Linked DNA regions of Homo sapiens: region 2 is linked to region 1. Evidence: fine-mapped expression QTL. Tissue or cell type: whole blood. Region 1 holds a variant in brackets; the other region holds the start of a gene. All regions are shown on one strand. Distances are between the middles of the regions.

What was found. PIP is the estimated chance that this variant, and not a neighbour inherited with it, causes the effect.
Region 2: ARAP2 starts here. The variant in region 1 is fine-mapped to the expression of ARAP2 in whole blood (TOPMed, PIP 0.95).

The regions. Positions count from the first base shown.
Region 1 is chr4:36,061,751-36,069,750 of GRCh38, reverse strand. ARAP2 (ArfGAP with RhoGAP domain, ankyrin repeat and PH domain 2) reads left to right here. Exons shown (of 33, transcript NM_015230.4): 33 at 1,473-3,747. The coding sequence ends at 1,844. It also overlaps the pseudogene LOC651644. Among named protein-coding and RNA genes, the nearest start is that of ARAP2, 180 kb to the left of the region's middle. The variant T/C (reference allele first, on the strand shown) is at 3,087.
Region 2 is chr4:36,238,073-36,247,977 of GRCh38, reverse strand. It overlaps ARAP2 (ArfGAP with RhoGAP domain, ankyrin repeat and PH domain 2), which reads left to right and starts at 3,464. Exons shown (of 33, transcript NM_015230.4): 1 at 3,464-3,799. LOC439933 (a long non-coding RNA gene) reads right to left here and starts at 3,862. Exons shown (of 5, transcript NR_122079.1): 1 at 3,767-3,862; 2 at 2,668-2,806. RefSeq lists a silencer at 3,089-3,668.

The DNA.
Region 1 (8,000 bases):
TGCAAACCATATCAGTAGTGTACTTGAAATTTCAGCATTATGTATGTTATTACTTGGCCCTTAAATTCTGTGTCTAAGAGAGTCCCAAAGTTTTTATGCTGATGGTTGAAAGACGATGAGAACTGTCACTCTGATATATAAAACCTCTCTATATTTATCCTTAATTTTTCCCAAGTAATAGATGCCGAGTGAAACTTTTTAACAAGATTAAAGTTTGTTTATAAACCCTGTCTTGTTTTTTTTTTACTTCATTTGCGATAAAATACATATATCATGGAATTTTCTACTTTATTTAAAAATACATACAATTCAGTGGCATTGGTTGTATTTACATTGTTCAACCATCACTATTTTTCTTAGTATTTTAACATATTCTAATGAAACTTTGGAATTAAGCTAGATATTAAACATTTCTTCCTATAAATTTCAGAGTAGGAAAAATGTATATAGCTTAAGATGTATAATCAGAATCTTACCAGAAAATTCCAAATTTCAAAATTATTTGTACATTATATTCATGAAAATATTTTTATTCCACTTGAATTTTCTGTTATAAATTTATGTTTGGATCTACTGAGATTAAGAAAAATAGAACAGTGTTGTATACTGGAAACTGTTTAAACTTTTCTTCATTTACTCATTCAAAAATATTTATTGATCATTTCCTATGTGTGTACAAGGCTCACACTTCAGTGAACTAATTAAACAAAAGGAAAAAAAAAATAGAAACCTTGCTAGACATATCTAAGCAGGAGTGAGTTAGAAGAGGCAAGTATGAAGTGAGATTCAATTTGAATAACTAACCCAAAAGACACCTTCGAAGTGGTATGTTGAATGCATGTTAAAATGAATTTCCATGGATTGCATTTTACAGATGTTCCTCAACTTATGATGGGGTTACATACCAATAAACTCACCATAAGGTGAACATACATAAAATAAAAAAGGCGTTAAATACACCTAACCTATGGAATGTTGTAGCTTAGCCTAGCCTAGCTTAAACGTGCTCAGAACATTTATATTAGCCTACAGCGGGGCAGAATCATCTGGCAACACAGCACGCCATATCAGTTTTTCACCCTCATGAGTGCATGGCTGACTGGAAGCTGCAGCTCATTGCCACTGCCCATCATCACGAGAGAGTGTCCTACCGCGCATCACTAACCGGGGAAAAGATCGAAATTCAGAATTTGAAGTATGCTTTCTACTTCATGCATATTTGTTTTTCACCACTGTAAAGTCAAAAAATCGTATTGAGGCATTGTAAGCCAGGGACTGTCTGTAGTTGATTTTGTAGCTCTAAGATTAGTATATAAATTCAGACATGCCACTTGTATCGAAGTAAAGTTAGGACCTAAGTCATAGAAATGAGATCTTTTATAGGAAGCATCAACTTTTATGTGGATTGCACTTTCTAAACCTAAATTGTGCCAAATCTTGCTTCCCTGTGAGACATTTAATTTTATTTTTAGAGTGCAAGAGCAGAACTTGAAAGGCTGCGGCTCAGTGAAAAGTGTGATAAAGAGTCCGTGGACTCTAGCTTAAAGGAGAGAGCTTCCATGGTGGCCCACTGCCTGGAGCACAAGGACGATAAACTTCGAAATCGACCCCGAAAACATCGGAGTTTCAACTGCCTGGAGGACACAGAGCCTGAAGCCCCACTTGGGCAACCAAAAGGCCATAAAGGCCTAAAGACATTGAGGAAGACTGAGGACAGGAATAGCAAAGCTACTTTGGACTCTGATCATAAGTTACCATCAAGGGTAATTGAAGAACTTAATGTGGTTCTACAACGGTCAAGAACCCTTCCAAAAGAATTACAGGATGAGCAGATTTTGAAGTAGGAAATAAAATGAATTGCTCCCCAGATTATTTTTTTAATATTGTATGCAATCTTTATGTGTAACTCCAAAACTGAACTATAAGATAATTCATAAGAATTTGCCTATTGATAGGCAAATTTGTCTATGCTTAGGCATTTAAGGAGCATTTAAAAATATGTATATATGTGACTGAATGTAAGATTAACTTTATTTTGGTCTGAACAAACCTTGTAAAGTTCCATTGTATTAACGTGTGTAAGAAGACATTGGGTTACTTAGGTGGTCAGTCCTTTTAAAGTAGTTGTCTGTTAAGTGGTATAATTTATGAGCAGAAATCTCAAACTGTACTGTATTGTATAAAATGCTGTGTTTAAATGAAGCCTAAGAAACTATCTGTAACATATTTTGCACTTTGAGAAACCTTGTATATTAAATTACCATATGTTTTTAGGTTTACAGAAGTTCTACCTTAGGGAAAAGAAAGGGAAGTAAATTGAAAAAGGGGGGAGAATTTATTGTAGTGGCTGCCTAAAAACCACTGGAGTTTTTAAAAGAAGCAAGGAGTTAAATGTCCTGCAAAACAAGGAAGTGAGCTAAGATTCATTCTAGTTCACTAATGACCAGAACTTGTCAATGAGAAACCACTTGTTAAGAAAAAGTCCAGTGTTTATTTCTCAAGAGTAATATTCGGCCAACAGATGTAAATAATAGCACTAGCCACTCTTATTAATATTTATAGTGTTAGAAAACCAGCCACATTACAGATTCACTACGTTTGAGCTCATTGTTGGTGGCTGCTAAGAGGAAACTTACACTGCATTGGAGAGGTTGTGTACACAGGACCTGGCCTGGATGCTGATTGCACTGTCATTGTATGCAAGCATTTTGTCTTTTTTCAGAATTTCTGACTATACTTTTGGTACGAACAAAATTCATCACCACAGGGTCCTGTTGTTTTGTTTGATTTTTAGATTTTTTTAAATTATTATTAAGGTTGTAATGTTTTTCTCCGAGTTGTCAGAAATAACTGGAAGAATACAATATATGGCCATTATGGAGCCAGGGGCTAGTTGGTGGTTTACTATACATTTGGGGGCTACCTGGTCACATTTAATCTAGGTTTTTTTTTCTTTTTTTAAGTAAAGGTGTGGTCTCTTCCCTGTACTTATGAATAAGGACAAAGCCCTATTTTTGTTTCCACATAAAGATCAGCTACTGAATTGGTGAATTTCCTGACAGACAATGCTATCTAACCATAGTTCA[T/C]GTTAGGGGAAGCATTTTTCCATCAGTTTCTTTAAAATTGGATTGTCTGGTGAGTTTTGATATTAAACATTATGTAGCTAAGTTTTTTTTTTTTAGCATTTCTTTTTTATTTTTCAATCTATATTCACAGGCCCATACTTCAGTCAGTCCAATCATAGTACAGTGATGTGGTGGTAGATGCTATGAATTTCTTCATTGTAAAATACGGATCATTTGTATTTTGGGGTGATAAAATAGTTCACCATGGGTATGAGATATTTATTCTTTAAATCAAAGTAAATTAGAATTTTTAAAAAGCACAAAACTGCAGGACAGTTTATGAAATAGGTGGCACTATTAGGGAATCTTCCTTTAAAGCAAGAAATCATGTTATTTAGAAAGAAAAACTAATCTTAAACATACTATTTCTAATAAATATTTATATTTTTATGAAATAAAGAGGTATGTGGAAATTAATATTTGGTGATGTTGGACAGTGGAAAAGTATCTAGAGTTTTTACCTGCCTTATCTGAATTCTTCTTGAAACTTGAGCTTAAACTCTAATAGCTGTTTCCCTTTCTATTCTGAACAACTGTCTCCATTTTTCAAGTGTGAGAGATAAGGGCTAATGATGACATCTCATTTATTTTGAGTAAACATTAAAATTGTTTTACAAGTCTACTTGAATGTGACTTTATTATTTTCAGAAGTTGAAGGTTGTTATTGTGAAATAGATCAAATAGATTAGCTTTCTTTTCTTTTTAAAAAAATTTGAATTTAATATATACTTCAAACTGGCTGTATTGTTTTTCCAAACAGGTCACTGTAAGTAGCTTTATTTATTTAAAGACCCACTTGCTGAGAACCAGGCACAATTACAGGCTCTGTGGCCTGTATTGACGAGAAGCTGCTGACCAGCCACATCCCTACAAGATGCATAGTACCACCCCTGGTTTATAGGCATCTCTGCCAGCCTTGCCACACCATGAGAAGGCCAAGGGACTGGCACAAGTGTCTGGCACCTCAGCAGTGCCACTTGGTCATTCATGAGCAGTCCCTCATGTTCAGGAACAGTGCCTGTCACCCAGGCCACTTCAGCTGCATCCACTGTAGGAAGGAGCTGACTGGTGAGGCCCATGAGCTGAAGGGTGAACTCTACTGCCTGCCCTGCATTGACAAGATGCTGTCCCCATTTCTAGGGACTGCAGCCAGCCCATCAAAGGCCACATAGTGAATACACTGGGCAAAGAGTGGTGGCATGCAGAGCTCTTTTCCCTGAGTGTGAGAAGCCATTCCTGGGGCCCTGGCACTATGAGAAGAAGGGCCTGGCCTACTTTGAGATCCACTACAGCCAGCTCTTTGGGACATCTGCTGTAGCTGCAGCCATGAGGTCAAGGGTGACATGGTGTTGGCCCTCAACAAGGCCTGATGTGTGTGAACTGCTTCTCCCGCTCCACCTGCAAGAGCAGGCTCACTCTGAAGATCAAGTTTGTGGAGTTTGACATGAAGCCCGTGTGTAAGAACTTCCCACTGGAACTGAAGAAGAGGCTGAAGAAGTCATTGGAGCTCACGTCTCGCTAGGCCTAGCCCAAGTCTGGGGACCTCAACTCTGAAGGCTCTCTTGCCTGGCCCTTCTCTCCCTCCCTTCCTTCTCCCAGAGGACCTCTGCCTTCTCCCTCTCCAGCTCACTGCCTTCTCACAGCCACCTCCCACTTCTATTGTCTGTTCTTGGACTCCTCATCTCCCTTTACCTGCTTCTTGTCCTCCCCTTGTCTCCTTTCTCATCATCTCCACCCTTTCTATTCTCTTATCTCTGCCTTCCCCAATGTCTTTTCTCTCCTTTATGGTGGCTTCTCTCTTTCCTTCTGTGCAGAGGCAGTGACCCAAGAGGTGGGGAGCCTGTGAAAGGCCTGGGCCCATGCCCTGTGACTGCATCTACCTGGGTCCATGGACTTCAGCCTGCAGAACTCCAGGGATAGCAAATCAGGGTCTGGGGTCACCAGAGCTCCTATCCTGACCTGTCCCTCCCCACAGGGAACCAGGTTGCACATATTCCTGTGGGACCCTCCACCTCAGAGTACACCCACAGCCAGAGCAGCCCACCTGAGCTGCAGGACCAGGGCCACCCTTCAATCTCTCACCATTCATTTAACCAAGTAGTATCCCTGTGCCCAAACTGGGCCAGCAAGTCCTGCCACCCCATTCACTACCTGCAGGGACAGGAGCCCACTTCCATCAAGAGGACTTTCTGAAATCCAACCTTGGCCCCTGCCTCTGGCTAGGCCACTTGGTTCTCCCCTCCCCCAGCCCAGAACCTGTGTTGAGACTTTGGGTGTGGCTGGGAATAGGAGGTGGTAGGGTCAGAGGTGGCTTATTTCCACCTCTAAGGAGGAGAATTCCTCCACAACCAGTGCAGACCTGAGGTTGGGACTCAGGCTTGCATAATGAAGGCTTAGTCACAGGAAAAAAAAAAAAAAAGAAAGAAAAAAACAAAAAAGCAAAGCACTCAAAGTGCTCAAAGGCACTCTCAATTTTATTTCTGTAGCCCTAAAATTAATTATTAGACATGGTTTTTAAATATTTGATTTCTAAAGAAATCATTACCTGATGATTCATCAAAGTGTCACTGAGAACTCAAAATCAAACAAAAATAATTGAAGCAAAAATATGACTTATGAACGTAACTATATTAGCTGCTGAATTGCATAATTTTTAATTCAAAAATATAATGCAAAAGCAATTTTGTAAATGCATTAAATGTATTTGAACAGGTTGTAGCATGCAGATATTTGCATCTTTTTAAAGTTTTAATAATCACTTTAGGAAGAAGATTAAAACTTTCACCATCTTAACAAAATTTGCATGAAGACTTACATATTCTTCCTTACTCAAATGAACTTGTAACCAACCCCAAACTCATTTTGCTTGCCTCACAACAGCCAGTAAGTTAAGGAGGTGGAACAAGGAACAAGGAAGGCAACTTTATTTTGGAAAGCCAGCAAACCAAGAAGATGGCCAACTAGTGACCTAAAGTACCATTTTAAGTCGGTACAAATTTCAAGCTGTTTTTATGTTTAGGGTAGCAGGAAGAGGAAAGGGTTGGGATCAAGATGTGCGCCACAACCGCAGAAATTTGGATACTAGTCAGAGTTTGAGGCAGCTGGAGCTGCTTCGTCCATGGTCAGGTCACAATGCTTCTGCAAATCTCTTTTTTTTTTTTTTCTTTTTTTAAATTTTAAGTTCTAGGGTACATGTGCACAACGTGCAAGTTTGTTACATAGGTATACGTGTGTCATGTTGGTTTGCTGCACCCATTAACTTGTCATTTACATTAGGTATTTCTCCTAATGCTATCCCTCCCCCAACCCCCCACCTCCTGACAGGCCCCAGTGTGTGATGTTCCCAGCCCTGTGTTCAAGTGTTCTCATTGTTCAATTCCCACCTGTGAGTGAGAACATGCGGTGTTTGCTTCTGCAAATCTTTAACAAAACATAGCTGTTTACATACTTTTCCTTTAATCACAGAGTTAGTTAAGAAAACTACATGACTGTTTTCTTTGAATTTTTTCTCAGTGCTCTAAAATTAGCCTGTGAGCAGGAATAGGTAAAGACCCCTTTAACAAAAAATGGAGTTAGTTATGTTAGTTTTTCTACTGTTTCACTGTTACCAATTAGTTAAGGCAGAATTAGTTGTAAAATGTGACCATTTTTCTGTCATGTGTACAATCATCACATTTAATTTCTAATGATCAGGAAATGCAAAGCACAGAAATGAATCAGGTAATTAAAGTTTATGTTTTTAAGTTGTATAATTATTTTAACATTTTTTATTTAAAATATTACAAATTACATTGTATTACCCCTTTTCTGCCACAGCCACTATATGTTGAATATAAAAGTTTTGATAATTGAGATACCTCTGCAGATTTAACCCTTTTTATGAGTTAAAGTTCAGAGCCCAAATGTCCTCATCTGAGAAGTAGGAATGTTAACTTGTTGACTTTTTTCAACAACTGTTTTATACACACACACACACACACACACACACACACTCTCACACAAATTACGAGCCAGGTATATGAAATAGATACATATATAGCAGCATAGTAGAGATACAATAAATGTTAGTTATTAATGTATTAGTCCTCCTAGCTCTCATTTGATCTTAGTTGACCCTAATGGTTTTCAAAACCGCTTCTAGCAGGCAGATCAAGACGGTGTAATAGAAGGCTCTTCCAACTGTCCTTCACTAAAGGACACCAACCTAATAACTATCTACACAGAAAACAAACTTCATATGAACCAAAACTCAGATGAGCACTCACAGTACCTGGTTTTAACTTCTTATCACTGAAGGAGGCACTGAAGGGGTAGAAAATACGGTCTTGAATCAACACCATTCCTCCCCAACCCCCTAGCAGCAGCAACATGGTGCATTGAGGAAACTTTTTAGGACAACGGGCTGGGCAAAAATTTCTTGAGTAATATCCCCATAAGCACAGGCAACCAAAGCAAAAATGGACAAATGGGATCACATCAGGTTAAAAACTTCTGCATAGCAAAGAGAACAACCAGCAAAGTGAAGAGACAATCCACAGAATGGCAAAAAATATTTGCAAACTATCCAACTGTCAAGGGATTAATAACCAGAATAAATAACAAGCTCAACAATTGTACAGGAAAAAATCTAATAATTTGATTAAAAGTTGGCAAAGATTTGAATATACCCTTCTTAAAAGAAGACATACAAATGGGAAACAGGAAGATGAAAAGATGCTCAACATAAGTTGGCAGAAAAATGCAAATCAAAACTACAATCAGAAATCATCTCACCTAAGTTAAAATTGTTTATACCCCCAAAACAGTCAATCATAAATGCTGGTGAGATTGTGGCGAAAAGGGAAACTTCTTGGTGGGAATGTAAGTACAATTACT
Region 2 (9,905 bases), 180 kb before region 1:
TGAATTTGCTTAAAAAAATGCCGCAACCTATACTGGTTCCATCTTGAATGCAGCCTTTTCCAAGCCTTCTACTTTCTTCAAGACACAATACAGTGCAGAATAGATCCTGGAGAAGACTGGGTTGGAATTCTCCCTCCCGTACAGTCCTAATTGTTTGATTTGTGTAAAGCATTCAATTTTTCTGTCTCTTAAGTTTTCTTATAAAGGAGATAACATCTCTCCAAGGAACTGCTGAGATACTTAAATGAGCTCTTGTAATTAAAATGCCTGGAACAGCAATTGGCACACAGTGCTCAATGGGTATTAGCCATCATGTTGTAAGAAAAAGTAGAAGGAGGAAAAGGAGGGAGAGAGGAGAGAGTGAGGAGGAGGAGGAGAGGAGGAAGATTTTCACTCTCTCAAATTGTCTCCTCGACAAGTAAAGCAACAAGAGATCACAATAGTAAATACATAGATAGGCACAGACACATCTTTACCTGCTTTTTTACTAAAAATCTGGGAAAAATGTGCAGGAGCTCGTCATTGTGGAATCATTTCAGCCTAGATGAAAATTACTGGGAATATATGTTCCAATGGTCTTGAGATTAAACATATTTTCTTACCTTTTTTTTTTTTTTTTTTGGAGGGGAGGGGATGGAGTTTCAGTCTCATTGTCCAGGCTGGAGTCTGGAGTGCAATGGTGCAATCTCGGCTCACTGCAACCTCCACCTCCCAGGTTCAAGCGATTCTCCTGCCTCAGCCTCCTGAGTAGCTGGGATTACAGGCATGCACCACCATGTCCAGCTAATTTTTTTGTATTTTTAGTAGAGATGGGGTTTCGCCATGTTGGCCAGGCTGGTCTCGAACTCCAGACCTCAGGTTATCTGCCCGCCTCTGCCTCCCAAAGTGCTGAGATTACAGGCCTGAGCCACTGTGCCTGGCCCATACCTTAATCCTTGTAAAGCCAATTTCCCTGTGTACTTTGCTCTCTGAATACCTCACTGTGAAGGTTGCAAAATAAAAAATTTATACCCTAAGAATATAGCCTAAATGTATTCAATGTATTCACTATTTACTACTTAACCTCTTTAAGTTTCAATTAAACCTATATTTATAAAATTGAAAAAAGAATTTTAACTCACACACGTTGTGTATACACAGCATATATGTTAGGTATTTGACTAGAGTCTGGTGACTATCGATCAATTAATAAAAGATAGCTTTTGCCGTATTTCCTCAGACATTTTTATTTTCCTCCATATATTAAGATTCATTAAACCAGAATACATCTTATAACTAATGTATACATTCAATAAGTGAGCATTGTTCTTCTTTATTTCCCAGGGCTATTATGAAGTCATTGTTGTACCTTGTAGCATTTACCTTTATTTCCCCTCAGAAAACATAAATCCAGAGATTGCATTGTATTTGCTAAACACTGTATTTTCAAAATGCCAAACAGTGATTAATAATTTTTAAAGAATAAATGACTGAATAATAATCAAAGAACTAAGATATTTTTGCGAAGAGGGAGAGAGACAATTTCTCAATTAGTTTATAAAATCTACCAAGCGAAGTAACTTGAGGACAAAGCAATGATTGAACCTCCCACACATAAGATAACTGATCTAATAATTTTTATTTATAACCCACCTTGTTTAGAGAAGGACCGAAGATGGCTTACAATGATAAAAATAGAGCCAGGCATGGTGGCTCACGCCTGTAATCTCAGCACTTCTGGAGGCCAACGCAGGCGAATCACTTGAGGCCATGAGTTTCAGACCACCCTGGCCAACATGGTGAAACCCTGCCTCTACTAAAAACACGAAAATTAGCTAGGCGTGGTGGTGCATGCCTGTAATCCCAGCTACTCAGGAGGCTGAGGCGGGAGAATGGCTTGAACCCAGGAGGCGGAGGCTGCAGTGAGCTGAGATCGCGCCACTGCTCTCCACGCTCCAGCCTGGGCGATACAGCGGGGCTCAGTCGAAAACAAAAACAAAAACAAAAAAGAGAGAGATAAAAAAAAAGAGAGAAGTATGTGAGAATTTGGAGAGGGAAAAGGGAAAAAGAACAAAAGAAACACACACACACAGAGAATGAAGCCAGAAAAGAGCCACATAAATAAAATTCCTCCTATAAATGCTATAGGAATCCAGAGAAAAAGTTCCCGTGGTTTGGAAAATGTCAATAAAACTTTCCTGGTGGAAATGAGGTCGGCTATGAGGTATTAAGTTCAAAAGGAACTGGATATTTGGTGTCTCTAGTAAGACAGAGCTGCTTCAGAGTCTCCCCAGGGAAAGACGGTGCTTTGGGCAGGTAGTTAGTGTGGGTGAAGGTGATGACTGAAGAATCCTAAGGGCCCAGGCTTGTGGGAAGCCTCTCTCTTTCCGCACTTCACCAATTATCTCATTTTCATAAGGTCTGCGCTTTCCTTAATTGCTTCACTTCCATCAACAGGAACAGGGGAAAGATAAATACATTTCACCTTTTAATGAAGAGAATTTCAGGTAGTCTGTGGGAGATGTTTATAAAAAAAAAAAAAAAAGCTGGTAGGGGGCAGTGTCTCACGCCTGTAATCCCAGCACTTTGGGAGGCCGAGGCAGGTGGATCACTTGAGGTCAGGAGTTTGAGACCAGCCTGGGCAACAAGGCGAAACTCCGTCTATACCAAAAATACAAAAAAAATTACCTTGGCTGATGGTGCGCGCCTGTAATCCCAGCTACCTGGGAGGCTGACGTGGGAGGATAGCTTGGACCCAGAGGCGGAGGCGCAATGAGCTGAGATTGCCTCACTACACTCCAGCCTGGGTGACAAAGTGAGACCCTGTCTAAAAAAAAAAAAAAAAAGTAGTTGGTCTGTGAACTCACTTGCAAATAACTGGATTTTACGGACGCTTAGATATTTGGAGGTCCACAAGGGTTCTTTGGGATCCCCTATTTTCCTTCGCTGCCTCCTTTGTCAGAGTCCAACTCAAAGGGGAAATGCCCCTCTGGGATCTAACCGCCACAGGTGCAAGAAGGAGCAAATTTACATAGAAGCAGCCTGGGGAAAATAGTGCCCTAGATGAGTCTTCAGTTTGGGAAACGCTGAGCTAACACTTTAAGTACTTGGAAGAGTAATACTAATAATCAGTCGTGGCGAGGTTCCGCCCATTTGACATTCAACCCCCCATGAGTGCGCACAGACAAACCCACTGGCCAGGAGGAGCCAACACAAGGTCCTGGGCATCTCCGTCCCGGGAAGGTGGGTAATGCCCCTGTCGCTCTGGGCTCCAGGGCGCGCCCCCGCAGCTTCCCCAGCGGGGTCTGACGCCTCCGGGCCGAGGTGCGCCAGGTGGCGAGGGTGCCAGGCGCGGCCAAGTCGCGGCGGTCTGAGTCAGTCACCCAACTATGCTGCGGAACCAGGGAGGCCGGCTGGGCCGCCCCCGCCGTTGAGCTCCGGCTTCCCCCGCGCGGGGCGCCTGCTCCCCGCCCCCGCGGGCGGAGAGGAAGCGGCGGCCGAGGCGAGGCGCGGGAGCACCTGAGCAAGGCGCGGGCGCCGGGCTCGGCGTTTCCGGAGCTGAGCGCGGGTCCGCGGCCCGCGCTCCCCGCCTCCAGGTGCGGCGGCCGCGACACGCCGGCCCCACTAACAGCGCCGCCCGCGCGGCCGCCGCCAGGCAGCAGAGGCGACTGCGGACAGCCGGCGGGGACCGGGAAAGAGGAGGCCTGGCGCCTCCGGCAGAGGGGCGAGGACCGAGCGCCCAAGGCTGGGAGAGACGCCGGCGCTGAGCTTCCCAGCGCCGCCTCACCTCGCTTTTCGAACTCCGCGACCCGAGCGCAAGGCGAGTACCCGGGGCCTCGGGAAGGCTGGGCCGGGATGGCCCACGCGGGGGTGGGAGGACCCTGTCTGGAGGGGCTGGGGCTTTTCGACACTTCACCGGGTAAATTTCCTCAGCGCAAAGTGCTCGGCTCTGGTGTCCGCCCCTTGGATTTCGCTCCCGCGTGTGGGCGTCTGAAAGGAAACCAGAAGCCGGTAAGTGATCCAAGAACTCCACTTCTGGGATTTGACCCGGGAGGGTGAGGATCCGGATAGACAGCTGGACACTCCCTCCATTCCTCTCCCCTACCTTTAAATAAGAAGAAGCTGTAGTGAGTTTCAGGCACCAAGTTATTTACTCGGTAGAGATCATGAATTTGCCCGGGTGTCTGTGCTGCCCCGCACCCTGCTTGTTAACCACGTTAAGACGACTGGCCTGTTAATTAACTTTAATTACGATCATTTGGCTTCCACCTGCCTGAACCCGATACCTTACACGGGAACCTGTATGATGTGAGTTTACCAGATTGATCTTTCTTGTTTACTTTTGGAGACAGTTCTCTTGGGAGAAGTGGTGTCCATCCTATTTAATAAAGTAAGTTTTACTTTATCTAATTCTGGCTTGTTTTCTTAAACACCTCCTACCTTGAGGTGATCTGGAGTTATTTTGATTTGGGGAAAGGGTTCGTGGATTATATAGCCTTTGATAATTAGAGGAAAACACAAGAAAATAAGCTAATTTGTGTGGAATAATGACATCTTAGGGTGTTGTAAGTAGGTATCCTGATAGCAAATTCTTTTTTTTTTTTTTTTTTTTTTTGCAAGCTTGTCCTTGAAGTAGGCTGTTCAGTAGAATACAGCCTTCGGTTTAAAAAAAATCAAGAAGTGTATTGAAAATAAGCTATTTTTAAAAGTACATTTAATAGGATGTCATTGTTATTACTCATAATAGTATTGTACTTACAAGCTCAGTATTGATTTATCTGCACTTAAGCACTCTACACCCCCACAGGCCCATGGAACTTTGCCCGTAAGTAATTGGAAGATAAAAAGCAAGCTAACTTTTTTTAAGGAAAAAAAGAGAAATACCTTTAAACTCTTTTTTTTTTAACTCTTATTTATGACTTCCATACACTTACAGGAGAAATATTGAGAGAAAATACTCATGACATTTTTTGTCCAACAACGTTTAAAGAAGAAAAAAAAGTGGGTCATGGAACTAGGCTAGGGTTAAGTGCAAATATCTTCCTGGCTTCTTTCTAAACATATTTAACACATACACATTTAAGGTGGTTCCTAACACGAAGAGGGTTTTATATAGATTTGTCAGTACTCAAAGATTTATTTGAATTAAAATGTACCTAGAGGGTAAGTGAGAGAGCTTGTTAAAACGTATTTATATGGGTGTGTGCTTGTGTTTGTATTTTTTCCTTCGTCTGTAAACCTGTCAGATTTTATGTGGCTTGTCTGTAAAAGGAGAAGCTGATGGTACGTTTAAAAACAAATTCTTGTTTTTCTAATATCACTGCAAGCTCCTTGCAGTGTAAGGCTCATGGATATGCAATAATATCAGATCCAACTATTCTTGGATACTGTGGAGAAGTATAGAACTCAGATTATAATGAATTACAGTTTTCTTAAGAACTTTAACGCATTGAAACTATGAAGTTTTAAAGTCTACGTAGAATTCTGGGTTATAGACTTCATGATATATGAGAAGTTTTTTGTTGTTGTTGTTGTTTCGTTTTGTTACTTTCTAACCCACCTCCCTGCAACTGTGAGAAAGTTTGGTGAAAGTGACTATAAAAATGCTAAGTATAAATAATAGTCATTGCTTTAATAGTTTTCTTTTAGCATACATTTCCACCTGTCCTCATTTATTTATTGATACATTTCTTGGATACAATCTTTGCACATGCTACATTGTAAGAGTTTTGGGAATTCTTGGTGAAATATTAATTAGGTAGAGAACTTCTTAATAATCTGGGAAATATGTCTTAGCTTTGACCACATATGGTGGATGTGAGATTAGAGGCTATGAGACGCTGTCTTAATCTTTTCTGCAAAGTTCTGGACCTTGTAATTTATCATTTTAGTTATTACTTGTAAGTATTGGCCAGATTAAATATATAATGGTAGTTAAACCATTTTGCTCACTTGTTTCTTCTTTAAATGAAGCAGTACTTAATGGTATTCTCCTCACGTGATCTTTTCTAGTTAGAAAGTTGTCCTGTGAAATTTTGTTTCAGTTTCTGTTCAGCACAAGCTTACTTATTTACCCATGCTGCAGAGAAAACAAAGGAGGCCTGATTTGGGTTGAAGCAGTGGTTTAGGTGGCAGATTTGAGATTTTTTAGAGTTCCTGAGAACTCATGAAGGATGATGGGGCCACTTCTCCATGTATTTAAAACAATACTAAAATATAAAACCATGTGGAAATTAGGGTCATAAAATTGGATTTTTCTCACCATTACAATTTAAGTGTTTTTTTTGGAATATATCAAATTCTTTGCAAAAAGTTGTTTTTTTGTGGTGTCTTTGGTATTGTTTATTGGCACTTACTGAGTAATAATGAACTGATTGTTCATATACGTGCCATTTACCTTTTCTTATAGTCATGTCTCATCTACCCTTTTAGATTGTAAACTCTTGGAGGGAAGACTGTATCTTCACTTTCTTTGTAGCCCTTAGCACTGTTGTCAAATGAGACAGTAGAGGCTGTTATCTTGAACACCAAATATCTCCCTCTCTTATCTTGGAGCGAGTAGTGTTGCTTAATATATATTGAATGAATACATGTTAAAAAATGGTCCAGTAAGGTAGGAGACGTTTTCTGAAATGCCCTCTTTTTATAAGAAAAAGAAACTTTGACAATTGCTAAACCAATAGGAATAAACCCTCAAACTCAGTTGGAAAAGAGGTCAGAGTACTATTTATAAATGCAAAGAGAGGAAACACAGTAGGCTATTCTGAAACATCTGGTTGTTTGTCTAAAAATATGACTTACATTCAGAGAAATGGTGGAGTATATACACTTATACAAAAGTTTTAAAATTCTGCTTTTGTAGAAACTCTAGAAGAATAAATTATTCTCTGATATCCCAAGAATTATGGCTTTACCTTAGGGATCTCTCTACATTAGAATTTTTAAAAATTCTCAAATCTTAGTGAATTAACTTAAAATCTGGATGGACAGCTTGAAAGGAAAAGACTTACAGAAGCTAAGGAGATTATCAAGCATTTAACTATTGCGATATTATCCAGAACACCTAAACCTAGGTACCTCCTATGCTACTAATATGTTCTTATACTAAGTAAAGGAATTTGTACTTGTGGCCTTCACTGGATGGAAATTGTTTTTAAGTTTTAGGTTTTTTTATTGTGTTTTTCAGATTGTGCTATAAGTAAAATAATCAAAACATAGCTTAGACAATCCTTACTCCTTGATCAAAGCTATGAAATGATTTTGCCCAGAGCCTACCTATTTTCAGCTAAAATTTCCATTATTCTCCATCCAGAAGACACTAATTAAATGCTTGTTGCTTACCAGGCACTGTTCTAAGATTTTAATGCATATGCGCTCATTTCATCCTCAAAATATCCCCGTGAGGTAGGCACTATTATTTTCCCTGCTTACAAATGACAACAGTGAGGCTCAGGAAAAGAGAGGAATTCTCCCAAGGCCACACAGGTAGCACATGGCAGAGCTGGAATCCCTGGTAAATCACTGTGCTTTGTGTCCCAGGTGTTAAGTCTTCAGGTGAAATTATCATCATTCTTACAACTCTAACTACATGTATACGTTACTACATTAATAAAACTATGTTAACTGCTGTGTTAGGTGCATTGTGGGTTTATTAGAAGAATGATTTACAGTGATAATTTAAAGGAATGTAATACTACTATGCAGACCGAAGAATTCCATTCAAACCAAGTGCAATATAGTGGTATGAATATGATTAAAGGCAATATTGTATACAATGGGTGAATTAATATTAGCCAACGTTTATGGTGCAGTTGTAACTCATGTCAGGTATTCTTATATATCTTAAATTTTTACTTGTTTAATTCTAATAGAAATACTATACGATATAGGGTATATTACCCTCATTTTATAAATGAGAAAAACAAGCTTCAGGGAAGTTAAATAACTTAAGTTACATAGTTAAAAAGTGGGGAAGCCTGGACTGGAATTCGGGCATTGTGCTATCTATACTACTGCCTGGGTGGAACTAATAAGGGATTGAGGAGGGATGGGATAGGCAGGGAAGCCTCACGAATGTGGTGTTACCATACTTGTAAGACTTGAATTGGCTCCCAAAGGAGAGAAAAAAAGTCCAGGTATGTACAGGGAGTTCCATTTGAATAAGAGCTGAGAGACTGGCCCAAATCTTCTAGTCTGTTTTCTGATCTCCTTTTTTACTGGGTAAAAATAACACATACTATAAAATTTACCGTCTTATCATTTTAAAGTGTATAGTTCAGTAACGCTAAGTATATTTACAATGCTGTGAAACAGATCTCCAGACCATTTCCAGTTGGTAGAACTGAAACTCTATGCTTGTTAAACAACTCCTTACCTCTCTTCTCCTCTCTGGTAATCATGGTTCTACTTTCTATGAATTTGACTACGGTAGATACCTTATGTAAGTGGAATCATGTATTTGTCTGTTTTATGACTGTTTTTTCACTTAGCATAATGACCTTCAAGGTTCATCTGTATTGTAGCATGTGACAGTATTTATTCCTTTTTAAGGCTGCTTAGTATTTCATTTTGTGTATATACCACACTTTATTTATCCATTCATCCATTCATCCATTCATAGATATCTGGGTTGCTTCCACTCCTTATCTACTTTTGCACCACATTTGAAGTTAAACCTTTAAGATCATAGTCAGGTATCTTTTTTGTGTTAATACTTTCTCTTCTTTTTTTTTTTGAGACAGCATCTTTCTCTGTCCCTGTAGTGGCGTGATATTGGCTCACTGCAACCTCCGCCCACTGGGTTCAAGCGATTCTCATGTCTCAACCTCCTAAGTAGCTGGGATTACAGGTGTGTGCCACCATGCCCTGCTAATTTTTGTGTTTTTAGTAGAGACGGGATTTCACCATGTTGGCCAGGCTGGTCTCAAACTCCTGACCTCAGGTGATCCACCCACCTTGGCCTCCCAAAGTGTATGGGGATTACAGGCGTGAGCCACCATGCCTGGCCTTAACACTTTATTTTCTCGTCAAGCACATTTGTTTTTGTTTTTGTTTTTGTTTTTTACCATAACCATTGACTTCATGTGGGCAGTGAATACTTATTTTGGTCATATTTGATTATTTGATTTTGGCTTCATATTGTTGCATTATATCAATTGTACTATAGTCCTGTGTTAGCTGTCTTTCTGCAGTGATAGATGCAAAATAAATTTTAATAGACTAAATTCTACATTACCATTGCTTTATATAGCAATTACAAAGATGTTCTCCCTTAATTTGTCATTGGCTCTCAACTCTCAGGCAATTAAATGTAAATGAATGTAGGCTTCCAGGTTTAGCCACGTACATGGACACATATCAAACTTAAATGGTGTATAAAACTTGAATTTGCAAGATATGGTATATTTAAACAGCATTTCCCTAGTGTGAATATAAGCCCTTATGAACAGCTAGACAAAGGAGAGGGAGACTATTAAGTCTTTGCTACCTCTTTACTATTAAATCAATTTTATATCTACTATGAGGCTTTACAGTTTATAGCACAGGTTGTGGAGTCTGACTCTTAGAAACACTTAAGTTAGTGTTTCCACTGTTTATCTATTGCGTGACATTCAGCGTCGGATTTTCCTCCTCTGCAGCTGTGAGGAGTAAATGAGGTCCTACAAAAATGGTTTGCAAACATCCACAACTACTGGTTATTATTATTATCAATGTCATTCTGAGGGAGAATGAAAGAAGATGGATGTGTTTTGGTGGGTGGGAAAGAAGTAGTGGTTGAGGTAGAGAACAGGGTACAGAGGAGGTCAGAGCCTGTGAGTGACCACAATTTAAAGAGATGACCACATTGAGGGAACTGGGCTTCCTGTAAGGGGTTTAATGGGGCGGATGTTGCCACACACTAAGGTAAGTGAATGGATGGCGGAGGA